2 separate regions of the Homo sapiens genome follow, and region 1 is linked to region 2. Evidence: fine-mapped expression QTL. A gene starts in region 2. The other region holds a variant in brackets. All regions are shown on one strand. Distances are between the middles of the regions. Region 1 overlaps DPF3 (double PHD fingers 3). Region 2 holds the start of ZFYVE1 (zinc finger FYVE-type containing 1).

The links. PIP is the estimated chance that this variant, and not a neighbour inherited with it, causes the effect.
Region 1: its variant is fine-mapped to the expression of ZFYVE1 in CD4 T cells (CEDAR, PIP 0.95).

The regions. Positions count from the first base shown.
Region 1 is chr14:72,752,799-72,761,138 of GRCh38, forward strand. It overlaps DPF3 (double PHD fingers 3), which reads right to left. Exons shown (of 11, transcript NM_001280542.3): 3 at 466-573. Among named protein-coding and RNA genes, the nearest start is that of DPF3, 140 kb to the right of the region's middle. The variant A/AAAGG (reference allele first, on the strand shown) is at 4,071.
Region 2 is chr14:73,022,295-73,030,634 of GRCh38, forward strand. ZFYVE1 (zinc finger FYVE-type containing 1) reads right to left here and starts at 4,812. Exons shown (of 12, transcript NM_021260.4): 1 at 4,632-4,812; 2 at 1,732-2,648. The coding sequence starts at 2,214. RefSeq lists a silencer at 4,515-4,724 and an enhancer at 4,955-5,154.

The DNA of each region.
Region 1 (8,340 bases), 270 kb before region 2:
AGTGAATTGGCCCCTTTTTGTGTAAGATGCTCCAAAGCTCATACAGGGTAAGGGGTAGAGGGTCCACGGTGTATTATCTTCTCCTTAGAAACATACAAACTGGGCCAAGATTTCTTTACTTGAGGCCACAAGAAAAGTATCACATGACCCGAAAGAGCTGCACATCCTTCAGTTCTGTTGGGAAATTCATCCTGCACCTGGGCTGGGGTGCAGCCTTTCTTTCCTCCCTGGGGTGGCAAAGGGAAGGCATGAGACACCCAGAGGGGAGAAAAGCTCAGGTGGACACGTGGTCATGTTTCTACTCAGCAGGCACAGAGGTGCACCCTTAAGCATGATGTGGGCATGTTCCCTCTCCCAGAAAACTTAGCTCTATGGACAAAGGAGCAAACCAACCTTGTCCTGGGCCCAGCCCAGTCCTCCCACCTTTCCCATCACAGACCCAGCCAAGCTCCAGAGGGCACTGACCAGGTTTTATCTCCAGCAGCCGCAGTTTTGGATCTTCAGGTGGGTGCAATCGTCTCTTCTTGCGCCAGCAGCGGGCAGGGTATGTATACAGCTGGCCCGGGGCAAGGCCTGTGGACAGAGACAATATAAAGATTAAAGGCTCCAGGCTGGAAGGGGCCTTGGAAACTACCCTGACTAACCCCGTCATTCACAAGGAGAGGAAGCTGAAGCCCAGAGAGAAGTGACTTGTCAACATCACAAAGCTGATTGCTAGTGGTGGCAAGGCTGAATCTAGGTCATCTGACCCCAGGACCCTGGCTCTGTCAGCTCCACCATGCTGTTCAGCAAGCCCATGCCAACGAGAGCCATTGCCTTCACCAAAACCAATTCTGCTCTCCTGCCTGGAGAGATCACCAACTGGACCTTCAGACAAGAAGGACCTTTGCAGTGTCTCCAAAGCAGTGGATCTCTATCCACTGCCCCTCTATCCTGATCCAGGTTAAGCAGGTTCCCTTCAAAACGGAGCAGCAGTCAGTTGGCCTACTGTATGGACAGCCTGGGTTGAGAAGCATCGCAAAGAGACAGAACCAAAAACACTAGATCTACTCAAAGGCGTCTCCCACCCACTCCCAGCTGCTGGCAGCTCACTGTAGGCAAATGGAGGCTTGTGTAGCCCCCATGAGAACATAAACCCACTCTGGTGACCAGGCCACATGACCTGCAGAGCCCGCACACCTCTATATCCCCGCCTACATGCCTGGGCCTTACAAAAAAAAAAAAATAGGCAGGAGGCCAGGGGCTGGGCTTACGTGCCACCCTGTGTGTGTGGCCTTTGACACCAACAGCATCACTGTCATGCCAAGCACCATGAGGAGCCTTCCTGCTCACCCGACAACAATTGTGTGTGGCTCTGGTGGCAGCCACGGGCCTTAGAGGAACAGGGACTTCTCCATGCCAGGTCACAGACTATTCCCAGGGAAATGGGGCGGGGAAGAGGCTGAGGGGTGAGGAGGCAGGTATTTGAGACTGGCTAGGTAATTTTCAGACTGGCTAGGTGATTTGTAGTCCTGAAGAGAGTGTCTGATACCCCCCATAATAAACCAGCAAGCCAACAAATCCCTAATAGGAAGAAAAGCCTAATGAAGACAGGGACTTTTTTGTCTTGTTCTTGTCAGAAGCCCCAGAATCAGAACTGTGCCTGACACAGAGCAGAACCAAACTAAATACTCATTGAATTAATGAATGAATATATTGCAGCTTCCTTTAAAATCACAACTCTGTCTTCTGCAGGTAAATGTGGCACATGGCAGCTGTTGGACGCAGGCGGCCTACCACAAAAGTGTCACTGTGCACACCTAGGACCATGGATTCAGAAAACATCAGCACCTGATTCCCATCTGCCGTCTTCCATTTTAGGGCCCTTAAAAGTTAAGAAGGGAAACTGGCTTCATTTTTCACCTTTGCAGAGAAAATCTATGTAACTTTCATTGCTATATACTCATTCATTCATTTTCATTTTTACCAGTCAACTCTACCCATTTATTGGGATGGGGCCAAAACAAAGTCAATTATCCCAGCATTAAAGGAACCAAAATACTCAGGTCTCTTTATGTTTAATCACACAGCTGCTCCACAGGTCACAAGATTGTGAACAAGTTGGAGGTTCTGACCACCCCACCCCTTTGGTTCTTAGAAACTAGAACTGACCTGGACTCAGAAATGTCAGAATTGAATGACCATTGGCCCTGCTGTTCCTGGCTCCAGGGGACTCATCCACCCAGATCCAAAGCATCCAAGAGGGACTCCAGAAGTGGAGGCCCAGGCCTGAGGCCAGAGCCCCCTGCACCCCCTCTCCCACCATGGCCATCTCTGGGCCTTAGGTTTCCTTCGTTCCCCAGTGGCTGCTTTACGGTGCTTCCAACCTAATCAAACACAGGTAAGTAAGAGTGAGCTGGCCCCCACCAGCACCCTCCAAAGGTCTACGTGGCAAGAGTGCAAAAGTGTCCACACTTGTCCAGGTCCTACACCCTCCCTGAGACAGCAGTCACTGTGCTTGGTGGTCAGCGGTACCAGAGAAGCCCCAGGCCACTCTGCTTGGAGCTTTAGACCCATTCTTCTGGGAGAATTCATTTTAGCAACTAGTTTGAATCTCCAGAAGAAGGGGCTGTTTTTGTTCCATTCTTTCTCTGCTGGATTGGAGACACTCTGCAGTGCAAAGGAAGAGCACGTGAGTCCTGGGAAGCATCCTAACACCTTTCTGAGCCTATTGCCTCACCTGTAAGATAAGGGCATTGATAACATTAATACCTACCTCCTGGGGCTGTTATGGGGATTTGCTTATATTCAAGAGAAAGCTCTCTATATCCACAAAGATGACAAATGTCAGTTGTTAATTGTCATGAGTTAGCTGACCTAGTCTTGGACTCCACACTCATGCAACATGACAGACCCCCTGCCCCATCCACCATGCTGCCACTTGGTTCTTTAGCCATGAAGGTGGAAACAGGCTTCTTTTTGATGTCTGCTTTGAATCCACCTCATCACAACAAGCAAATGGTCGCAAGAGCTCTCTTGGAGCTCCCTGGCCCCTTCCTTGCCCTCCTCAACAGGCTGACAGGCACCAGGGTTCCTTTATAGGAAAAACACGTTCAGCCCTGGAGTTCCACTTACAGAGGGAAGAGCAGGGCCCCATGAGACTTATGTTGTTTATCTCAGAACAGGAGGCAGATAACTCAAAGCATGTGTGTGTGTGCATATGTGTGCGTGCATGTGCATGTGTGGTAGATGGAGGTGGGGAAGGAGGATGGAGTCACAGCTGCTGTCAGGGAAATTAACCTTGGGGAGTGAGCCTAGGGCTGGGGAGGGGACATGAAGGAGGGGAAACAAGTGGCCAAAGACAAGAGGGGAAACCAGTCCTCCCTGGTAACCAAGGCCACTGCCACCCCTCACTTCACATACCCCACTGAGCAAACTACTTTTCTGTTACTTTGAGCTGCAACTCGAGCTACAACATTCCTGCCCATGTGTAAGCACAAATGTGATGCACAAAGACACACACACACAATCAAAAACTCACACACTTGCTGGGAGAACTGGCTCCATGGAAATACCTGGCATTGAAAGGCTTGATGCCTTTATGGTTAGCAGACTCCAGACAAATACAGCTGGTTATGCACATTGCACAAGTTCAGCAGGTGGATCCTGAGGGTTCTGGGCATCTCTCACAGACAAAGCATGAGCTATTCAGAATTTAGAAGATGAAATGGGAGAGAAAAGAGAGGGAAGAGTGGCCGGGTACAGTGGCTGACGTCTGTAATCCCAGTACTTTGGGAAGCCAAGGCCAGCAGATCACTGAAGCCCAGGAGTTCAAGACCAGCCTGGCCAACATGGTGAAACCTCATCTCTATCAAAAATACAAAAATTAGCCAGTATGGTGGCGCATGCCTGTAATCTCAGCTATTCGGGAGGCTGAGGCAGGAGAATTGCTTGAACCCAGGAGGTGGAGGTTATAGGAGCTGAGGTCATGCCACTGCACTCCAGCCTATATGACAGAGCAAGATTCTGTGAAAGAAAGAAAGACAGAAAGAAAGAAAGAAAGAAAGAAAGAAAGAAAGAAAGAAAGAAAG[A/AAAGG]AAGGAAGGAAAGAAGGAAAGAAAGAAAGAAAAGAAAAAAAGAAAGAAAGAAAGAAAGAAAGAAGAGAAGAGAAGAGAAAGGGAGAGGGAAAGAGGGGGAGAGAGGGAAAGAGGGGGAGAAGGGGAGAGAGGGAGAGAGGAGAGAAGAGGGGAAGAAGGGGAGAGAGGGAGAGAGGGACAGAGGGGGAGAAAGGGGGAGAGGAAGGAAGGAAGGAAGGAAGGGAGGAAGGGAGAGAGGGAGGGAGGGAGGGAGGGGAGAAGAATGATATGGGATAGGAACAGCAATTGAAATGGGGAAGAAAAAAACTGAAGTAGTTTCATCTTTCCCCATCCAGAGCTGAACTGTGGCAGTTCAAGCCCCCCAGGGAAAGGCTCTCTCTCTGCAGGATCTCAGAGAGGTGGACCCACAGCTGCCCCTGAAACTTCCTTTCAATGGAGAATTTATTATGTCACAGGACACAGTGTCCCACTGTCGGCCAACTCTTACTGTGATAAAGAGATTCACCATGACCTTATTTTGAATCAAAATCTATCTCCCTATAAGTTATACCAATTTGTCCACCCTCTGTTCCAACAGCAAACAGCTACATCCCAATCCTGCATCCCATATATCTGCTTGGGTTTGAAGGGCAGCTAACCAAGAAGCCGAGGAACTAAAGAGGAATAAGAGTTGTAGGAAAGAGTTAGTGACTACCCCTGCTCAGAACCGGGTAACAGGATCAAAGTTTCCAAATAGAAAATGACAATACAACAATTTAAAATACAATTTAAAAAAATACAATATAATACCTATTTACATAGCATTTACATTGTATTAGGTATTATAAGCAATCTAGAAATGATTTAAGGAATATGGGAGAATGTGTGTAGGTTATATGCAAATACTATGCCATTTTATATAAGGGACTTGAGTACCCACAGATTTTGGTATCTTCTGGGGTCCTAGAACCAATTCCCAGTGGATACTAAAGGATGGCTGTTATGTATATAACATACTATCATTTATTTAACAAATGGGGATACACACATATTCAGACAAATATATGTGTGTGGTGTGTTTGCATGTTTTTTTTTATGGGGGTATAAGCCAAAAGCTAAAAAAAATTACCTAGAGAGAGAGCAAAAATAAAATAATAGTAGCAAGAAAAAGAGAAGGACGAAGAGGAAATTGCCTATACGAAAAAGAAACAGGGTAAAAGTGAAGATACAGTTAGACTTTCTCATAATATACCATTGGAACAATGCAAATATTTTACACAATTATAAAGTAAAATTAAATTAAAATAAAAAGCATACATCCGTTTCTGACTAAAATGGAGTATAAAGACCAGATTTAGCTCCCACCTAAAACCAAAAGAGAGGAAGAAAAAAATCAACAACAGTTTTGAAGACAATGAACATCAGGCATTGAAGGACAGTGATCCCTGAGACACTGAAAACAAGCAAGATAAGCCCTGTGATTGCCCCAGCTTACAGCCTTAAGAGAGTCTCCAGACTGGAACACAAGGAGGAGGAATACAGGTGGAGACCTGCAGATTCCCCACGTTTGAGTTGAAGAGAAAATGCCAAGAGTCTGAGGAGACCACAGTGACTAGAACCCAAGGAACTGAAGGGTAAACAAAAGAGAGCTGCACAGAGAATGTGGAGATCCAGAGGGTCCCTTTCAAGTATTCAGCTTAGCGTTGATCCATTTATGCCTGTGAGGAAACTAGATAGGACTGGGAAAAGAACTACCCAAAAAGATTAGAGGTAACAGCGCTCGGTGTGCACAAGGGGGCGGAAATAGTCTGTTTCCACCAGCCAATATGGAAAACTGTATGATTCCCGGGGTACTGGGTAGAGTACAGTAGAAAGATCTTGCCTCACTAATAGGGAATACTTAGCCCTAGACTAAGTACTGCTCTGGCTCCACCTAACAAATCTTAAAAGCAAGACAAGAAAACATCAAACTGTTTTCAAATAACTTAAATATGTCCCAAAACAATGTTCAAGAACATTTATAGGAATAAAATATATCTACAGCATTCAGCAAGGTAAAATTCACAATGTGAGGCACCCAACCCAAAATTACAAGGCATGTAAAGAAGCTGGAAAATATGACTTATAATAAGGAGAAAAATCAATCAATTGAAACCAACCCAGAACTGAAACTGATATTAGAATTAGTAGCAAGAACATTAAAACATTATTTGTATGCTCTGTGTTCAAGTTTAGTAAAAATTTGGGAGATACATATGTATTTTTAAGACTCAAATTTAACTTCTAGAAATGAAAACTATAATGTGCAAGATGAAAATCATATCAGAGGGAGTTAATGTCAGATTAGATATTGCAGAAGAAAAGACAGATAAACTTGAAAACACAGCAATAGAAACTATTCCAAAATGAAACCCACAGGAAAAAACAGAAAAGAAAAAAAAATAATGGCATAAATGAGCTGTGGGGCAACTTCAAACAGCCTAATATATGTGTAATTGAAGAAAGGGAAGAAAAAATATTTGTAGAAATAATGGCTGGAGGCTGGGTGCAGCGGCTCATGCCTTTAATCCCAACACTTTGGGAGGCCAAGGTGGAAGAATGCCATAAGCCTGGGAGTTTGAGAGCAGCCTGGGCAACATAGTAAGATCCTGTCTCCACAAAAGAGAGAGAGAGAGAGAGAGATGAAAGAGAGACAGAGAGAGACAGAGAAAGGGAGGAAGGGAGAGAGGGAAGAAAGGGAAGGAAGGAAGGAAGAAAGAAAGAATTTAAAAAGAAATAAGGGCTGGAAATTTCTGAAATTTGATGAAAACTATAAACCCATAGGTCTAAGCAGCTCAATAAAGCTAGGTACAATAAACATTAAGAAAACTACAGCAAAGTATGTCATAATCAAAACTGCTCAAAAATAGTGATAAAGAGAAAATATTAAAAGCAACCAGAGAAAGGAAACATGTTAACATATACAGGAACATTCTTATCTTTGCAATGCAAGCAAGAAAAGAGTGGTTCAACATCCCTACAATACTGAAAGGGAAAAAAAAACTTGTCAAACTAGAATTCTATACCCAGCTAAAATATCTTTCAAGAACTAAGGCAAACTAAAGATAGTTTCAGATATACAAAAGCTGAAATAATTCATCATCAACAAACCCACACTCTAAGAAATGTTAAAAAGAAGTACTTTAGGCAGAAGGAAAGTAATACCAGACCTAAATTTGGATCTACACAAAGGAATGAACAGCATCAGAAATGGTCTAGTACATGAATAATTATACGAGATGTTTTTCTTATTATTTTAAACTCATTAAAAGATGATCAACTATTTTTAAAAATACAATGATGGCCGGGCGCGGTGGCTCATACCTGTAATCCCAACAATTTGGGAGGCCAAGGCAGGCACATCACCTGAGGTCGGGAGTTCGAGAACCGCCTGACCGACATGGAGAAACCCCATCTCGACTAAAAATACAAAAATTAGCCAGGCATGGTGGCGCATGCCTGTAATCCATCAACACATCTACTCTGACTCTGAACTCCTCCTGCCTTCCTTTTATAAGAACCCTTGTGATTACATTAGGCCCACCTGGATAATCCAAGATTATCGCACCATCTCAAAATCCTTAATCCTGTCTTCGAAGTCCCTTTTGCCATGTAAGGTAACATACGCACAGATTTCAGTAATTAAAATGTGGATGTCTGAGGTGAGGAGGGGCCTTATTCTATTAATCACAGTACTATTGTAGACTCCTTATACTATTCATGAAATAGAATAATATAATTTGAAAGTTAACTATAATTAAAGATGTACACTATAAACACTAAGCAATCACTAAAATAACAACAAAACAAGAGTTATAGTTAATAAACCAACAAAAAAGAGAGAAAACATAATCACATTAAATGTAAATTGCCTAAATACCCCTACTTAAAAAAGATTGTCAGATTACATGTAAAAAGCATAACACAACTATATGCTGCCTATTAAAAAACTACTTTTAATATAAAGATGCAAATAGGCAAGAAGTAAAAGAATGGAAAAAGATATTTCATGTTAATATTAATCAAAAGAGAGCTGGAGTGGCTATATTGGAATTAGACAAAGGAGATTTCAGATAAAATAATATTAATAGAGATTAAGAGGATTATTTTATAATGATAAAGGAATCAATTTATTGAGGATATAACAATACTAAATGTTTATACACCTAATAACAAAGCTTCAATATACATGAAACAAAAAGTAATAGAATTGTAAGGAGAAATAAGCAAACCCACAATTATAGTCATAAGT
Region 2 (8,340 bases):
TAACTCATTTCCATCAGCTTTATCCAAGAAGGAAAAAAGTACAGAAGAAAAATATTAGGTGGGTAATTAGGCAGCCTCTCAAATGGTAACTTACATAGGTACTCCCCTCCAAACTGGAAACCTAAGGAGTCACCACCATCAAAAGTACTGAGTCAGTGGACCACAGATACTCCAGTGATACTGACTACAACAAACTGGTACTGGATACTATGTGCCAGACTGTGATAAAAATCATTTAAGCTGTGCCTCAGTTTCACTGGTACTTCACAGGATTGTTGATAGGACTCAAAAAGATTAGGAATGGAAAGGATTTTTATCACTTACCCTTGGCTATATAGTGATTGGTAAACAAGTATGTGAATTCAAGCAAACTTCACTTGAAAGCCCACTCAAAAGAAAAGTATAGACATTACACTACCTTCATTCAAAAGTATAAACATTATACTACCCCTTCCCCAATCTCACCTAGCTGTCACAACACTACCATCTCCCCAACTCAGACTCAAGCCAAATATCCCCTAGTCATTCTGTACTCCCAGATGCCCCTCACTGGCTTTTACTGATCAGAAACCTATACAAGAAAATATGAAGAGACCAGCCAATCGCGCCTGTAATCCCAGCACTCTGGGAGGCCAAGGCGGGTGGATCACTTGAGGTCAGGAGTTCAAGATCAACCTGGCCAACATGGTGAACCCCCGTCTCTACTAAAAATTCTAAATTACCAGGCGTGATGGCACATGTCTGTAATCCCAGCTACTTGGGAGGCTGAGGCAGGAAAATCGCTTGAATCCAGGAAGTAGAGGTTGCAGTGAGCCAAGATGGCACCACTGCACTCCAGCCTGGGTGACAGAGCGAAATTCCATCTCAAAAAATATATATATATATATATATATATATATTTTATATATGTTTTATATATAATATATATTTTATATGTTTTATATGTAATATATATATTATATGTTTTATATATAATATATATTATATATGTTTTATATATAATATATATTATATATGTTTTATATATAATATATATTATATATGTTTTATATATAATATATATTATATATGTTTTATATATAATATATATATTTTATGTGTTTTATATATAATATATATTTTATGTTTTATATATATTATATATATATTTTATATATGTTTTATATATATAATATATATATGAAGAGACCATCTGGAAAGAATATTGTCCTTATTAAAAGCCACTTTTTAAATCAAGATAACAGGTTTATGCCTTATTAGCTAGCACTCCCATGGGACCCACTGTTAGTGTGTGTTTCCCTGGATAGGTGCAGTCCCGCATCACTAACATTTACTCACAGCTTGCCAGGGTGCTCTCATTCTGAAATGTTTTAAATCAGTTTGTTCTAATAATAATGCTACAATTAATACTAACAACAGCTACCGTATACACTGACCATTTATTATGCGACAGGCTCTACAAACACTGTCTCATTTCAACCTCACAACTCGATGAAGTAGGCTGTCCCCCATTTTATAGATGAAAAAGCTAAGGCTCAGAAAAGTAAAGTAATTCGGCCAGAGGTCATGCAGCTGGTAACTAAATCTGACTCCATGCAACTAAAGCCTCCAGAGGTCTTGCCTTTTAATGATTAAAATGTGATCTCTTCTTGGACATCGTTTTTTGAGAGCTGGCTTCCAACAACAGATCTGCTCCACTACACATGAATCCCACTATACCCGTGTGCTTACCTGAATTTCTTCATTTTCGTCTACTAGGAGGAAACTCACAACCTTCTCAGTCATCTTCTTCCTCTTGGTCTCCTCATCCATCTCTTCTGCCTCCAGTGACTCCTGGAGATTACTGACATTGTACACAGTAACAGGGTGTCTCCTTTTGTTACCCCCAGAATGAGTCCTCTTCTGGCACTCCAGGCACAAGTTAATTTTGCAGGTCTGGCACCTCACTATTGCCCTCTGCCTAACACCTGGTAAATGCCCACTGAGACCCTTGCAGAGGTCACAGTAAGGGACATGGCCAGGTTTGAGTCTTATCCGCTCATGGTTTCTCAGGCGCTCCTGCCGATGGAGCTCCTCCTCGCAGCGGAGACACTGCAGACTGCAGCACTCATCACACTCAAAGATAGCTTCATCAGTCCCGCTGCAAGCGTAACTTTCCTGGCACATCAGCCCCGGATTCAGGCCCTTCTCTGCTGGGGAAGTCTGGGCACTCATACTCACGCTGGTAAGGAAACACACCCACCATATAATAGTCACTGAGCTTGCCCCGGGGGTGAAGACGAAGATTTGAGTCTGAAGACTGCACGAAACTTCCACAGGGTTCTGAACACTTTAAAAAAGAACACCTTTCATGTCCTGTTATAGTTCTTCACAAACAAATGTTCAAATTTTTAATTTGCTGCCTCTAAGACTCTTGTATTAGCAGCAACGTTGATTTGGTTTGATGGTTTCATCCTCCATAAAGTGCAAGCAAAGATGTGGTCAAAATTGACTTGGAAGGGTCTTTTATGGCTATCTGAGAGAGGTCTGATGGGTTCACGGTGGTGGGTTCATCGGTTGGACATCAGCTACAAAGTTTTGGTAATGAAAGAAAGTGGTCAGGAGCTTTTCAATATAATTCGACCTGAAGTCAGTATTTCAGGGGATACCTAGAATAGAGGAAGGAAAAGGATTTCACTCATCTAAAAAACAGAAGTGCACCTTTAAAAAAATTTTTTTTGACTAAATTAAATATTAGCCCAGAACTGCTGAGAGAAATCTCATTCCTCTTTTTTTTCTTTTTTTTTTTTTTGAGACAGAGTTTTGCTCTTGCTGCCCAAGCTGGAGTGCAATGGGACAGTCTCGGCTCACTGCAACCTCCGCCTCCCGGGTTCAAGCGATTCTCCTGCCTCAGCCTCCCAAGGAGCTGGGATTACACGCGCTAGCCACAATGCCCAGCTAATTTTTGTATTTTTAGTAGAGACGGGGTTTCACCATGTTGGCCAGGCTGGTCTTGAACTCTTGACCCCAGGTGATCTGCCCGCCTTGGCCTCCCAAAGTGCTGGGATTACAGGCGTGAGTCACCGCACCTGGCCAGAAATCTCATTTTCTATCTTAACACTTACACTGGCTTGTTGTATAGCCAGGCGCAGTGGCTCACACCTGTAATTCCATCACTTTGGGAGGCCGAGGTGGGCAGATCACTTGAGGTCAGGAGTTCGAGACTACCCTGTCCAACATGGTGAAATCCCATCTCTACTAAAAATACAAATATTAGCTGGGCATGGTGGCAGGCACGTGTAATCCAAGCTACTAGGGAGGCTGAGGCAGGAGAATCACTTGAACCCAGGAGGCGGAGGTTGCAGTGAGCCAAGATCTTGCCACTGCACTCCAGCCTGGAAGACAGGGCAAGACTCCCTCAAAAAAAAAAAAAAAAAAAAAAATCTCAAAATTGTGGCTAAAGCTCCTCCTCTTGACAACAAACGCCACCTCTAGGCCCAAGGCATTTAAGAGACTTTGCTGCTCTATTTCCCAGACTGGAATTTTCTGTTCATTCAGATATTAAATTCAGAATCTAAATCACTAAGTGAGTAGTCCTTGGAAGGACAGCCCTCTGCACCCCCACATGCATCCCACAATTGGGAGGAGTGGAGAGGCCTTCACAAAGCTAATGAAAATGTAATAATAAACTTTAGATCTATCAAATACCTGGGCCGACCTGGTTAGCCTTGTAACTGGATTGTTTCAACTCTAGCTAGATGTATATTAAAGACTCAAAACTTAGAAACAATAGTAACAATTTCATCTTTAAAAACAATTTTTTTACACTGTAATTCTTCTGTCCCTTCTTTCACTAACTGAAAAAAAAAAAAAAAAGGAGCAACAGGAGACAATTCCTCTACTTTGACCCATGGCAAAGCCAGGCCTGCAGTGAATCAAAACAAATAATTTTTCTCTTTGTCACTTAAAAACTAACTTAAAAATAACTTCAAAATACGAAAAAAGATAACTGGGGCAAGAAAGGGGCTTTTGTCACTTTGACAATTATATTCCTAATTCCCCCTAGCCTTGACCCGCATTCCAAGGCCCCGACAAGGTGTAAAGCCCTGCCTTTCTGATAGTCACTCCTCCCCTACAGTAATCAATCTATCAACCTTATTTTCAGATAAACAAGGAAGGCGAAGGGAGTGACTAGGGGATCTTATTTACTACAATCTAACCTCAGACATGCCCAGCCAGCTCCCAAAACAGAAACAAAAATCAAACTTGTCACAATTGAGAAAAATATAAAATCAACCTTCAAAAGTACACCTCACGCCCGGCCATGTCAACCAAACATTTTGCCCACTCGGGCCCCCACCTCGACACCTCTCCCCAGCCGGGGGTTCCTCACCCTTCCTTCCACCCGGACACCACCGCCACAACCCGAGGGGCAGGAGCGGAGCCTAAGAACAAAGAAGGTCCCCCAAAATCCCCCCCACGCCGGCAAAACCCGGAGCCGAATCCATTGTTTATACCACCCCACCCCCACCCCCGCCGCACCCGCCCCCCCTTCCTCCCGAGGGCAGCCTGAGCCCCAGGACGATCACTCGCCCCGCGCTGGGCCGTGCCCTCCCCGCCCTGCCCTGCCCGCCGCGGCCCGGGGATCCCACCACTGAGAAGCTCGGCCGCAGCAAGGCGGCGTCGGGGGGCCGCAGGGCGCCAGTGGGGGCAGAGGCTATTCCTCAGGACACCGGCAGATCCATCCTCATCTCCATCTCCGCCACCCTCCTCCTTCGTTGCCTCCCGGGCTTCCTCCTCTCCTGTTGTCAGTTGGGATCAGCTGATCGGAGTGAACTTCTCCCAGCTCGGACTAACAGGAAGGCGTGAGCGGTGCAGCCCAGAAAGGGAGGAGCGAGAGAGGGAGGATCCCGGCGCCAGCAAGGGCGTAGTGCGCACTGCCTCCTGGGAGATGTAGCTCCTCGAGGCGCGCTCTCGCCCCTCATCCCGGAAAGGAAGACTCTGAATGACTACAACTCCCAGTACTGAAGAGGCTGCTCTTGCGAGGAGGCGGTGGGGACAGGCTACGGAGGATTTCGGGACTTGGAGTTTTTGCATTGAGTGTGGTGTCCGCAGGTTTCAGCACGTTCTTTTGGGTTGTAACTGGGGAAGGCATGGTGCTACATTAGAGAACTGATGTAATAATGTCTAGTATAAGTGGGAAATGGTGAGTCAATTAATTTGGATTCAAGTAACCTCTTGCACACCATTCCCTCAGAAACGTGTGAGCACAGACAGTCTCCACCTTCCCAATTTCACTTCGCAAAAACTAAGGAAAAGACCAGAAAAAGTGATAAGAGGATATAGGTACTCTTGGGAAGTTTTTGTTGTTTTTCCCCCCTTGGCAAAGGACAAAATTACAACGAATTTAGTTTTAAGATCTCAGTTGGCTTTATTGCGACTCTAGGATCAGGCAACACTTCATTCCAGAAAGTGGAGTGAATGTTCTGATGAGCTGAGCAGGAGAGGTTGGCTTTGTAGACAGAGAAAAGCTTGAGGAAGCAAAAGCAAAGAACAAAGAGCATATTGGTTTCTTTCTTTCTCTTTCTTGTCATTCTTTTCTTTCCTCTTTCTTCTCTTTTTTTCAGTCTTCTCATGGGACCTTGACATATTGGTCACTTCTAAGCTACTTTCCTTGGAAGGTGAGGACAGAGAGACAGAACAATAGAAAAATAACTGATTAGTTGACATCAGTTACTTCAGGCTACTTCTTTTGTGTAAGGATTACAACAGAGGGAGCTTCATTATCATGCAACATTAAAACAAGCCTGTTTGGGAAACTGGCTGTCCTTATCCCTCTTTCCTGATTTCTCTGAAGGTCAGATAACAACTTAGCTTGGGTTTGGTAACAACTTAGTTTGGATTTGGTGAGGTGAAACTTTAGCATGGGTGACTCCATTTTTATTTTAGCCAGGTCTATTGGGGCCTGGTGCAGGAGTTTAGTCCAAAACAAAGGCCTCCTATCATTTTTACTTAACACCCTTCAAGGGTATTCTCCAAGCCAACCATGAATTTTTTTTCCTACCTATTATTTTTCTGATCTTTCCTTCTATAGTTTCAGAACTTCTCAGGCTGGGCGCGGTAGCGCATGCCTGTAATCCCAGCACTTTGGGAGGTCGAGGTGGACGGATCACCTGAGGTCGGGCGTTCGAGACCAGCCTGACCAACATGGAGAAACTCCATCTCTACTAACAGATACAAAATTAGCCGGGCGTGATGATGCATGCCTGTAATCCCAGCTACTCGGTAGGCTGAGGCAGGAGAATTGCTTGAACCTGGGAGGCAGAGGTTGCAGTAAGCCGAGATCACGCCATGGCACTCCAGCCTGGGCAACAAGAGGGAAACTCTGTCTCAAAAAAAAAAAAAAAAAAAAGCTATTATACTTTCAGAACTTCTCAATTTGAAATTATCTTTGAGGGCCAGGCACGGTGGCTCATGCCTGTAATCCCAGCACTTTGGGAGGCCAAGGAGAGCGGATCATGAGCTCAGGAGTTCAAGACCAGCATGGCCAACATAGTGAAACCTCATCTCTACTAAAAATACAAAACATTAGCTGGGTGTGGTGGTGTGCACCTGTAATCCCAGCTACTCGGGAGGCTGAGGCAGGAGAATCACATGAACCCGGGAGGCAGAGGTTGCAGTGAGCCAAGATCGCACCATTGCACTCCAGCCTGGGCAACAGTGCAAGACTCTGTCTCAAACAAGAAAAAAAAAAAAAGAAAGAAATTTTCTTTGCGTTAGATGGGCTAAATTTTCAGATAAGTTTTCAGGCTACAGTGCAGGCTAATGGTTAACATTTATCAGGCTTTTTTTTCTTTTTTTATGGCCTTATATTTGTTTAGTGCTTTCACTTTTTGTTTGTTTCTTGAAACAACATTGAAAGAAAGCCTGAGTCTGTGTTGCCAAAGATTGACTGCTTGCTCTAGAAAAGCTCCTGAAGGCCTGGTGTGGTTGTTCCTGTGTGTAATCTCAACACTTTGGGAGGCCAAGGCACGCAGAGCACTTGAGGTCCTGGCCAACATGGTGAAACCATGACTATACTAAAAATACAAAAAATTAGCTGGGAATGGTGGCATGTGCCTGTAATCCCAGCTACTCTGGAGGCTGAGGCAGGAAAATCACTTGAACCCCAGAGGCAGAGGTTCCAGTGAGCCAAGATTGTGCCACTGCACTCCAGCCTGGGCAATGGAGCAAAACTCCATCTCAAAAAAAAAAAAAAAAAAAAAAGAGGCTGGGCGCAGTGGCTCACGCCTGTAATCCTAACACTTTGGGAGGCTGAGGCGGGTGGATTGCCTGAGCTCAGGAGTTCAAGACCAGCCTGGGCAACATGGTAAAAACCCATCTCTACTAAAACACACACACACACAAAAAATTAGCCAGGCATGGCGGCGTGCACCTGTAATCCCAGCAACTAGAGGGACTGAGACAAGAGAATCACTTGAACCCGGGGGTTGGAGGTTGCAGTGAGCCGAGATCGTGCCATTGCACTCCAGCCTGGGTGACAGAGTGAGAGACTCCATCTCAAAAAAAAAAAAAAGAAAGAAAGAAAGAAAACGTCCTGACTATACAGGTGGTTGGGTAAGTCACTCAACCTCTCCACAAAATAGAAATTGTAATTAATGAAGTCCCTGCCAATTCCAACATACTATGATTCTATCTTGATAATTGTTAACCCAGAAGAGAAAACTAAGATTAAGTGACTTGCCAGGGTTACACAACAAATTATTGACAAATCTGGGACAAGACTGTATCTGCTGACTTGAAGTCCAATACTTTTTACCTTATGATTCCAGGGACATAAGTAAACCACTAGCAAAATCAAATCTACATAATAATGACCCATATATGAGGATTAAATTGCTGAAAATTATATTTTCAATATTGGGCAGAGAGCCAATGGTTGGATTATGAAACATGGCTGAGAAATTGTTTTCTAAAAACAACTTCTAGGGCCGGGCGCAGTGGCTCATGCCCGTAATCCCAGCACTTTGGGAGGCCGAGGCAGGTGGATCACGAGGTCAAGAGTTCAAGACCAGCCTGGCCAAGATGGCAAAACCCTGGCTCTACTAAAAATACAAAAATTAGCCGGGCCTGGTGGCGGGCGCCTGTAATCCCAGCTACTCAGGAGGCTGAGACAGGGAATTGCTTGAACCCAGAAGGCAGAGGTTGCAGTGAGCCAAGATCGCACCACTGCCCTACAGCCTGGGTGACAGAGTGAGACTCCGTCTCAAAAAAAAAGAATAAACATTAAAAAATTTCTGGGCCGGGCACAGTGGCTCACGCCTGTAATCCCAGAACTTTGGGAGGCCGAGGCGGGCAGAT